Linked DNA regions of Homo sapiens. The protein of the gene in region 1 interacts with the protein of each later gene in a pairwise test. Each region holds a gene or a part of one and is shown on either strand. Other genes may lie near its edges.

Evidence for each region. Proteins that work in one complex are often made in the same cells at the same time.
Region 2: the proteins of SYT16 (region 1) and NCOA5 interact in a two-hybrid assay, tested with the Homo sapiens proteins (one large-scale study listed by BioGRID).

The regions. Positions count from the first base shown.
Region 1 is NC_000014.9:61,814,759-61,819,556, reverse strand, and holds part of SYT16 (synaptotagmin-16), read right to left. Parts: intron 1-4,798. UniProt on the Homo sapiens protein: May be involved in the trafficking and exocytosis of secretory vesicles in non-neuronal tissues. Is Ca(2+)-independent.
Region 2 is NC_000020.11:46,079,486-46,084,283, reverse strand, and holds part of NCOA5 (nuclear receptor coactivator 5), read left to right. Parts: intron 1-4,798. UniProt on the Homo sapiens protein: Nuclear receptor coregulator that can have both coactivator and corepressor functions.

The DNA.
Region 1 (4,798 bases):
AGAATGTGACTTATTATATTCCTAAAATTAGACGCCAGAAGAATATTATATTCTCACAATAAGAAAATTTTATTCTAAAGGGGTAATATCCATCCATAAATGTAAACTACCTAAAATCAGATATGTATAATCCTTAATGGAAGGATGACAGCTGTGCATAAAATTTTTTTTGTAATATGCACTTCAGATACCTCTCCAATCTACTAGAAAGCACTGTCAGTGAGTTTGATTATCATCTTAATATACAGACAATTGTTAAATGGCATAATAGCCATCTTATCATTCATAATGCTAAATAATAGTTAATGACTAAATAATACCCTAGTGATCTAAAAGGACAAATGTCATCCAAATCTACTATACTCAGGAGAAGGGAAGGTTTATTCCTCCCAAGATGTCTGTCCCATTTCTTTTATAAAACATATAGACCAAATTTTAGATTCATTTAGAAACTCAGGTTGGTCAAGAAAAAGCTTTACTGGGTTTACCAATTCAAAGATGCCATGGTGAAATGAAAACATAGGAATTCTATTCAAACAGTATGAAATTATTTATGCTGATTTACTCTTAGAATGTTTCAATAAGATAACATCAACTGGGTAAATCAGTTGAGAATATTGCCACCATAACCATATTTATGTTTTCTTCTAGAATTTAATTCTTGGTTTAAAAACAGGAGGAGCAGTTTAGCAAACAAAACAAGAACAAGCAGGTTCACAGACCTTTTCTTCTACACTGTTTATAATTACCCAGGCTTAGTCAGCTTTTCAAACTTAAAACAAGTGCACAGCCCATATATGTCAAATCAGTACATTCCTCAGAACTCTGCTATTCTATAACATTAATAATATCTAAATGCTGTTTTTTTTTTTTTTTTTTGAGACAGAGTCTCACTGTGTCTCCCAGGCTGGAGTGCGGTGAAGCAATCTCGGCTCACTGCAACCTCCGCCTCCCAGGTTCAAGCGATTCTCCTGCCTCAGCCTCCCAAGTAGCTGGGATTACAGATGAGTGCCACCACGCCCTGCTAATTTTTGTAATTTTAGTAGAGATGGGGTTTCACCATGTTGATCAGGCTGGTCTCAAACTCCTGACCTCATGATCCACCCGCCTCGGCCTCCCAAAGTGCTGGGATTACAGGCGTGAGCCACCGCGCCTGGCTGCTGTCATCTATTATTGCAGAATTGCTACTGAAGTCTGATAAAAGCTTGGGGATTATGAGGAGGGAAGTATGCACAGAGGGGCAGTGAAGCATCATGATGTCTTGGATTTGCCTTCAAAATGCCTCTCCCAGAAAAGTGGGGGTGGAGGTGGAGATGGATGCAACAAGCCTGGTGAAATACCAACGCTCATTAAAGCTATGTGACCTGGATACATGGGGGTTCACTATACTATTCTCTCTTCTTGTGTATATGAAATTTTCCCTAATAAAAAGTTTTGTTAACATTATCACTTCACAACAGAATTAGGAGTCCAACGTTATTTATTTCAAAAAGTAAACTCAATAGTATTAGACCATAAAGCCTAGAATACAGATTAATAGCTCAGTGCTTTCATTTATAAACTCCCTCCCCCAAATTCGCAGAAAAGCTGCAAGAACAGCACAAGGAACTCCTAAATTTACCAAATGCTAACCTTCGGCCACCTTTGCTTTCTCTCTCATATGATACACATATACATATAAATGCACACATACATGCATATATCCTTTTTTCCTAAAGCCTTTGACATTTAGGTACAGATATCATGTCCCATGTCAACCACAATAAAAATATCAAATTTAAGAAATTTAACACTGATACAATGCTATTATCCAATATACAAGCCATATTCAAATCTCACCAATTATCACAACACTGTCCTTTGTCGCATTTTTTCCCTCATCTAGGATATAACCTGAAATCATCCATTGCATTTAGTGGTCTCTTTAGTCTTCTTCAATCTGAACAGTGCCTCAGCCATCTTTCATGACACTGACTTACAGAATGTCTCTTGATTTGCCTTTGTCTGATGTTTCCTCGTGATCAGAACCAGGTTATACATTTGTGGCACAGTAAGTGGCATTGTGTCCTTCCCGGTGCTTCCTATCAGGAAGTACAGGATATCAGTTTGTCCCATTATTCTTTTTTTTTTTTTTTTTGGAGATGGAGTTTTGCTCTTGTTGCCCAGGCTGCAGTGCAATGGCGTGATCTCAGCTCACTGCAACCTCTACCTTCTGGGTTCAAGAGATTCTCCTGCCTCCGCCTCCCAAGTAGCTGGGATTACAGGCGCCTGTCACCACACCCGGCTAATTTTTTGTATTTTTAGTAGAGACAGGATTTCACCATGTTGGCCAGGCTGGTCGCAAACTCCTGACCTCAGGCGATCCACCCGCCTCGGCCTCCCAAAGTGCTCGGATTACAGGCATGAGCCACCGCAACTAGCCCCATTATTGTTAATGTTAACTTTGATTATTTGGTTAAGTTCGTATACTCCAGGTTTTCCCCCCATTTTCCAATTAATAAATAATCTTTGGGGAAAATGCTTTTTTTGTGTGTGTGTGTGTGTGTGTGACGGAGCCTCACTCTGTCGCCCAGGCTGGAGTGCAGTGGCAGGATCTCGGCTCACTGCAAGCTCCACCTTCCGGGTTCACGCCATTCTCCTGCCTCAGCCTCCCGAGTAGATGGGACTACAAGCGCCCGCCACCACGCCCGGCTAATTTTTTGTATTTTTAGTGGAGACGGGGTTTCACCATGTTAGCCAGGATGGTCTTCATCTCCTGACCTCGTGATCCGTCCGCCTCGGCCTCCCAAAGTGCTGGGATTACAGGCGTGAGCCACCGCGCCCGGCCAAGAGTGGAAGTTCTTAACTAAGAAAGAAAGAGCTCTCTGCAGCAGAGAGGGATCCTAAAGAAATGGGTTGTCCTGGGGGAAATTCTTTAACAATGTAAATAATTCTGTTCCTCTTAAAATTTTCACATAACAGTTCAGCATCCATGGATGAATCTTGCTTGAATTAATTATTGCTATGATGGTTTCAAAGTAGTAATTTTCTAACTCTCTTTGTCTATATTTTTTAGTTGGCATCATTTGTAAACTTTTTAATAATGACTAGGGTTAGAAATCATTTAACTCAAGATTTTCCATCCATTTTCAGCCAAAGTGAAGCAATTTTCTTTTAAAGTCTAGGCATCTGAAATCCTGAATATCTCAAGTCACTGTTTAGCACTAGTTTCTAACGTGGACTTGTTGAGGGCTTATATTTGATCCCCGACCCCCACCCACCCTCTTCCAGGACTGAGCACTGAGTGGAAATTGCTGATGGAGTAGACAGGATGGGGAGAAAGGAAACTGCAGGTTGCCAACAAGAAAGAAGGAGGGAAAAAGTGGCTGCTGGTGGAGACTGACTGCAGGGCAGGAACATCAGCCTGGGATGCAACAGGCAAAAATGACACAAGATCAGCCAGGAAACCAGGAGCACCCAAACGGGGACAGATGTCTCCTTTTACAATACCAAATGTTCATCTGTCACAGCCCCAAAGACACATCCACCTGAAAACTGCCCAAGATTTCTGGGGTATAATAGAGTTAGATGTTTCCAACATTACCTAAACATGCCTGGCTGATCCTAAGAAATTATTCTTACAAACAGATTAAAGTGACTTCAAAACTAAACACCTATAAAAGGAAGTACTAATAATGCAACATATGCCATAAATGGAATAAAAAAATAAAATAGCGCTTCACTACTTTTGTGTTCTGGAAACAAAATATTATCTGGAATACTTGTCACTGAGGAAATCATGAAATAGTTCAGTACCCAAGTACCACCACTTTATATAACAGACTGGGATCTCAAAGTTCCTCACGATTTCATGATAACTTACTGAAAACCTAGTTGAAGCTCTCGAGTTCCCCTTTTCTCCTCTGGAATCTGCCCTTAGACAGCATGCTATCTAGATATAAGAACATTTTCTATTGGCTATGTTCTTTTTTGTGAACATTATAAGTTTCCAGGCAAATATTTTAAAAATATCTCCATATTTTATATAATTTACATGCTACATTCATATAGAAGGTCTTTCTGGATTCTCTCCAGAAATGACTGGAATAGAATACTTGGATTTCGCCTGGTTTTAGAACCAATTTTTCCCTCAAGGGGAAATTTTGTGGGGGAGAAAAATGGGGGTTGAGGGAAGCACTCAGCTATAGCCCTAAGGCAATATTGTGCCCAGGTTTGATTTATCTTATCGAGGTCATGTAGTCACTGCATGGTGACAAGACAGGACTGCTAAAGAAGTGATCATCACTCTGTTCCTACCTCCCTCTCACCTGTCACTTCCTCACCTGCAGAGGTAAGGAGAAGGACAGAGGAACAGTAGTTCCTGTATCACTGGAACTTGTTAGAAATGTGAATTCTCAGGATGCACCCCAGACTTACTGAATCAGGAACTCTGGGAGTGAAGTCCAGCGATCTGTTTGAATAAGTCCTCTGAGTAACTCTGATGCATGTTAAAGTTTAAGACCTCCTTTTTAAAAATACTGATGTCAGGGTCTTTTTTAAAGCTCTCTGGAGTAATTCTAATATGCAACTAGGACTAAGAACCAGAGCTAACTAAAGAATTCTGTATCTGGGAGAAGCCCTGGGCTCTACGTTTTCAAAATCATCTCCATGCTAACAGAAGGTTGTAGGACTTCGGGCTGCAAACATGGTCAAGCTTTGCGGGAAATTTTTCAAGACACTGACTGAGAATACTTTCCTTCTCTCCCTTTTGATAGTAGGGACACATAGTAAGCCTCTCACATTAGTTTTGAATAAGAAA
Region 2 (4,798 bases), on another chromosome or scaffold:
AGAAAGACCTGGGTCTGAGTCTCAGCTCTGCCTCCTGATAATTGTGTGGCCTGTCACTTAATTTCTCTAAACTTCAAATTTTCTCATTTGCAAAGTAGAAATTATAGCAGTATTTAATTCCAAGAGTTGTAAAAGGATTGAATGAAATAATACACATAATGTTCTTAGTACACAGGCTCAGGAACAAAATAAGCATTCTGTAAGTATAAACTATTGTTTCCCCCATTTCTGTTCCCAGGAATAATATTCTAATACAGTTAAAGATGTAATAATTATTTTAGTTGGAGAATAAAGGAGATAATCAAATATATAGGGAAAGTATAGTATTCAAAGTGAACTTAAAGGGTTGATTTAGAAAGAGCAAGCATAACATTCTCTTATCCCTGACTTGTTACAATATAACTCATTACAATATCCCTGATGTTGCAATATATCATCAAAGTTGTCTTCATAAATATAGTTTAGCGAGAAGTCCTGTCATTTCCCCTCCCAATTTGGGGGATTTAATGTGTGATATTCTCTGTCTTGTCAGTATGGTTTTCCAACTGGCATTATCTTTATCAGCATGTAATGCCACTTTAGTAATTCTTGATTGTTAGTTGGTTTTCAACTAAGCCTTTTAGAGAGTTTTATGTCATTTGTAGTCAGTTATTAAAACAGTATAGGCTTCTGGGTTCTTTGAACAGCTAGTGGTGGTACTGTCACTAAGTGTTGTAGTTCATGTGGCTGTCAAAAGACAAAATTACAGCACACTTAGTTTAGAGATCTTAATTGTCTTTTATTTGCAACTCTAGAATAGGGCAACACCTCATTCTATAAAATAGAACAAGTGTTCCAATGAGCTGAGCAGAGGCGTTTGGCTTTATAAACAGAGAAGGGAGCTGAGGAAAGCAGAGACAAGGAGCAAAAAGCGGATTGGTCATTTCAGAGTTACTTTTCTTGTGAAGGGTAAAGCAGTGCAGACTTCCTTTTCATGCTGGCTAAAACTGGCCTATTTGTGGTTTTGGCCATTATTTATCTCCTGATTTCGCAGAACGTCAGGAAAAGATCTTTGTCTTGGCTTGATAGCGTGGAACTTCATCATGAATTTGGTTTGGTCTTTGGGCCTAGTTCAGGAGCTCAGTCCAAAGCAATGGCCTCCTGGAAATTTTCTTTGACACCGCTCTTGTTATTCCTAGTCCTCATTGTTTTCTGTGGCTGTAGCTTATGAACTATAAAATCTGGTTTTAAGGTGAAAAGAGTTGTTTTATGATTGTACAATTAAAAAATAAGTAGAACAAAGTAGTTTTTGGTACTGTGAGTGAAAGAAACATGCATTTTTATTTATAGCATTATCCAAGGACCATTTTGTGACCCCTGTCTGGCATATTAGTCTAAAATAAAATTGTGGATTAGATATTGTATATTTTGGGAGTTCTTCACCCCATCCTTTTGTAGTTTATAATGGTTCTGCCATTTCCAGCATGTTTTCTAGATTATTTTCCAGTTCTTTTCCTTGTATGTAAAGCTCTTTTTCTTGTCTAAAAATTCTTAACTGAGAAGTGCTTTTAACTGTTTTCAGACCACCACTTGGACACTATAGATATTCAGGCCAAGATAAAGCACTTCATGGTGATTATGATGATTTTGAATGGCATTCACATTGCTAGTATAATTAACAAAGTATAGAAGTATCACCCAAACTGAAGTGGAGAAGACACTGAGAGATGACTTTTGGTCTTAAGGGCAGTTGGCCAGAATAAAGTATAGCAGAAGGGGAAAGAAGTACCGTTTCTTCCCTTTTCTATTCAGAGGAGACATTAGACCTCTCCTTGGAAGAGATTCCCAAGTTGCCACTTCCCTCTTGTTGATTAATTTTTCTCCAACCAGAGTTCCCCATCTGATGTCCAGAAAGATCTCCAAATTGTCTTTCTACCTTTTTTTCCCTTCTTTACATTAACACCATTTCTATTTGCTTGGTGTTGATTATATCTCTCTATAAGGATTTAGGAGAAAATAATCTGATTATTTAATACAAAATAAAACTATAGATTAGATACTGTGTCTTTCTTTGGGAATTCTTCACCCCATTCTTTTGTGGTTTAAAACAGTTCTGTCATTTCCTACATGTTTTCTGGATTATTTTCTGGTTTCTTCCTTTTATGTAAAGCCGTGAGTTGGTGCTTTAGCATTCTCAATATTTGCATTTTCAAAGAAAATCTTTTTTAAATGAACCCTCTGCTTCCAACTGACAGGTTTTCAAATTCTGTGACAAAAAAAATAGGATGAGGGAAGTTTTTTCTTGACTTCTTGAATCTTTGCTCTCCGTGATTAGTTCCTTAAAGTTATTTATTCTTCTGTATTTCTGAACTCATGGATTTCCCAAAAGTTCTATGTGCACATGTGTTAGGATTTTTTGGGTGTATGGGGATTGGCAGTAATGTTGGTGGTTGTGTTTTTACAACTCTCACTGAAAACTCCCCAGCCCTACCCTAATCTGAGCAATTCTATTAGATAGGAAAAAAAAAAAAATCCAGGTCTCATTTTCTCCATACGTCAGCCCAGATGGAAATTTAAGGAACTCTTAAATAGAGATGAATAAACAGATACTTGACATACTACACTAAAAGTTTACTAAACCCTAAAATGAGACAATTATCTGAGAATTCTTGTTTTTGCAGAAGAAACATCCCATGCTGTCAAATATAAATACTTTGGACTACCCAATGAAAATAGATACTACGAGGCAAATTACAATCAAAATGGTTTAAAGATATAATCTTGAATATTCTTTAATCTTTTAAGTAATTACAAAACGATTCCACCAGCTTCAAAGTAAAATATTTATGTCCTTCATTCTAACTAGAACTGGTTTTGTTCCAAAGATATAGTATACATGACCATGTGATTTCTCCAGTTCTGTATGTAGATGCTCACGAAACTGGCTATAATTATACAGTGTAATATTCCTTTTCATATGTAGAGAGCAAATTATTGGTAATAGAAACCTACCAATTAAAGTAATACTATATGTGTTGTACTCTTAACCTGAATGTTTGCCAGGTCTAGTCAGTGTTTAGATGTGAGTTTCCTTTATTCACAAGACCATTTAATAATATATGAACTCCTGCTGAAGTTATGTTATGTATATTTTTTATCTTAATACACACCCAGTGTATTCCAGAGACACCTTGAAAACTACTTAAAATACTCAAAGATATTATATTTCTCTCTGAATCATAGCCAACCTATATAATTAGAAAGTGGTACACAGTAAGTGAACAGACTCAGTAAGTCATAAACCTGAACTAGTATTCTTCACAATTACGTATAATAGAACTAGATATTCCCTATAAGGCCTGTCATTATATAATTTGTAATTTAGACCATTATAAACTTTAAGAGTTGTAAATTGTGAAAGTACTGCATGCAGTAGCAAAGCTATGGTCAGATATTACTGGCCAAGTCTTACATAGAAAATATTTTCAGGTTTTTTTTAAAATAGAAGGATTATATCTTGTGTCTGCTTAATTGAAAAGGTAAGAATCAATTTAAGATATACTTCACTATTTAGCTTTATATTATTTTCAGTTTTGTCAGAAGCCATTTTTCTAGACAAATTAGAGACTTCTGATTTAAAATGGAATTGAAGATTACCTTCATTTGATCAGGAACTCAAAAGTTGGCAAAATAGCAGCATAAAATCTCTACCAGACCTCTAAGTTTCTTGTTATTGCTGTGGTCTTTCATGTGATAGGAATCTGGTTGGGATTTTTAAAATACATAATTATTATTTTAAAGCACTCGAATTATGTGAGTACTTAATACCATTTGATGTCATTAGATACACTATTAATTGTTTAATACGGAAAAAGGGGAACAAACTCTACTGCAGCAGAAAGCACTTTTATTTCTTCATTCATCTGAAGTATGAAATTTGTAATGTATTTATTTAGCTTTAAGTCATATGAAAACTGTCAGGTATTATTTTGGGGCATAGATTTCTTAGTACATGGTATTTATTATTCACTTCAATTTTTGTAAAGCAGGTATTCTTGGTTTTTAGCAAAGCAGGCTTTAGCTATACAAATTTGCTTTTCTTTAAGCTTATGTGATTCTACTTTTCTCCCATATCTAGTTCTATACGCCAGCCTTCTCTAATGAAAACAACTTAGGAGGAGTGTTTTATTACCTAACCCTACTATACCAAACGCCAGTCCTTATTCTTGGTTATCTGTAGATGTTAACAGGTCATATTCTTTGTTTATTAAAAATAATAATAATAATTTTCTTTCCTGCATGTTATTCTGGAAGATTCTATCCAGTGGAATTCAACACAAGACACACTAACAGGAGGCCCTGCTTCATGGGATATTGGAAGTTTTAAGACAATGAAATCCAGCTATTACTTCTTAGTAACATAAAATAGAATTATTTGCCTTTGCTCTTTTGTTTTTTAAACTCTCCTTATCTTCCCCCCCACTTTCTTCCTCACAAAAAGAATCTTACAGCTGCTTTCTAAGAGTTTAGAAAACAACCTTTTCCTCCCCTTGGAGGGAATGTGTCAGGTCTAGGTCTTGGCAGCGTGTTAAAGCATTGACGTAATTAGTTTAAGACAAATTACGTGTTAACTAGAAAACGAAGGGACATTTCTTACCAAGCCGTGACAATGTACTACCTTAACTCAATAATAAAAATTGCCCAAGTGACAGTGTGTCTCTGCTGAATGGCTTTTCTTACACCATCTGGTTGTCATTGTAGTTTTTGTTGTTGTTGCTTTCATTTGAAATGTGCTGATGATCTTGTTTTTATTCCGTAG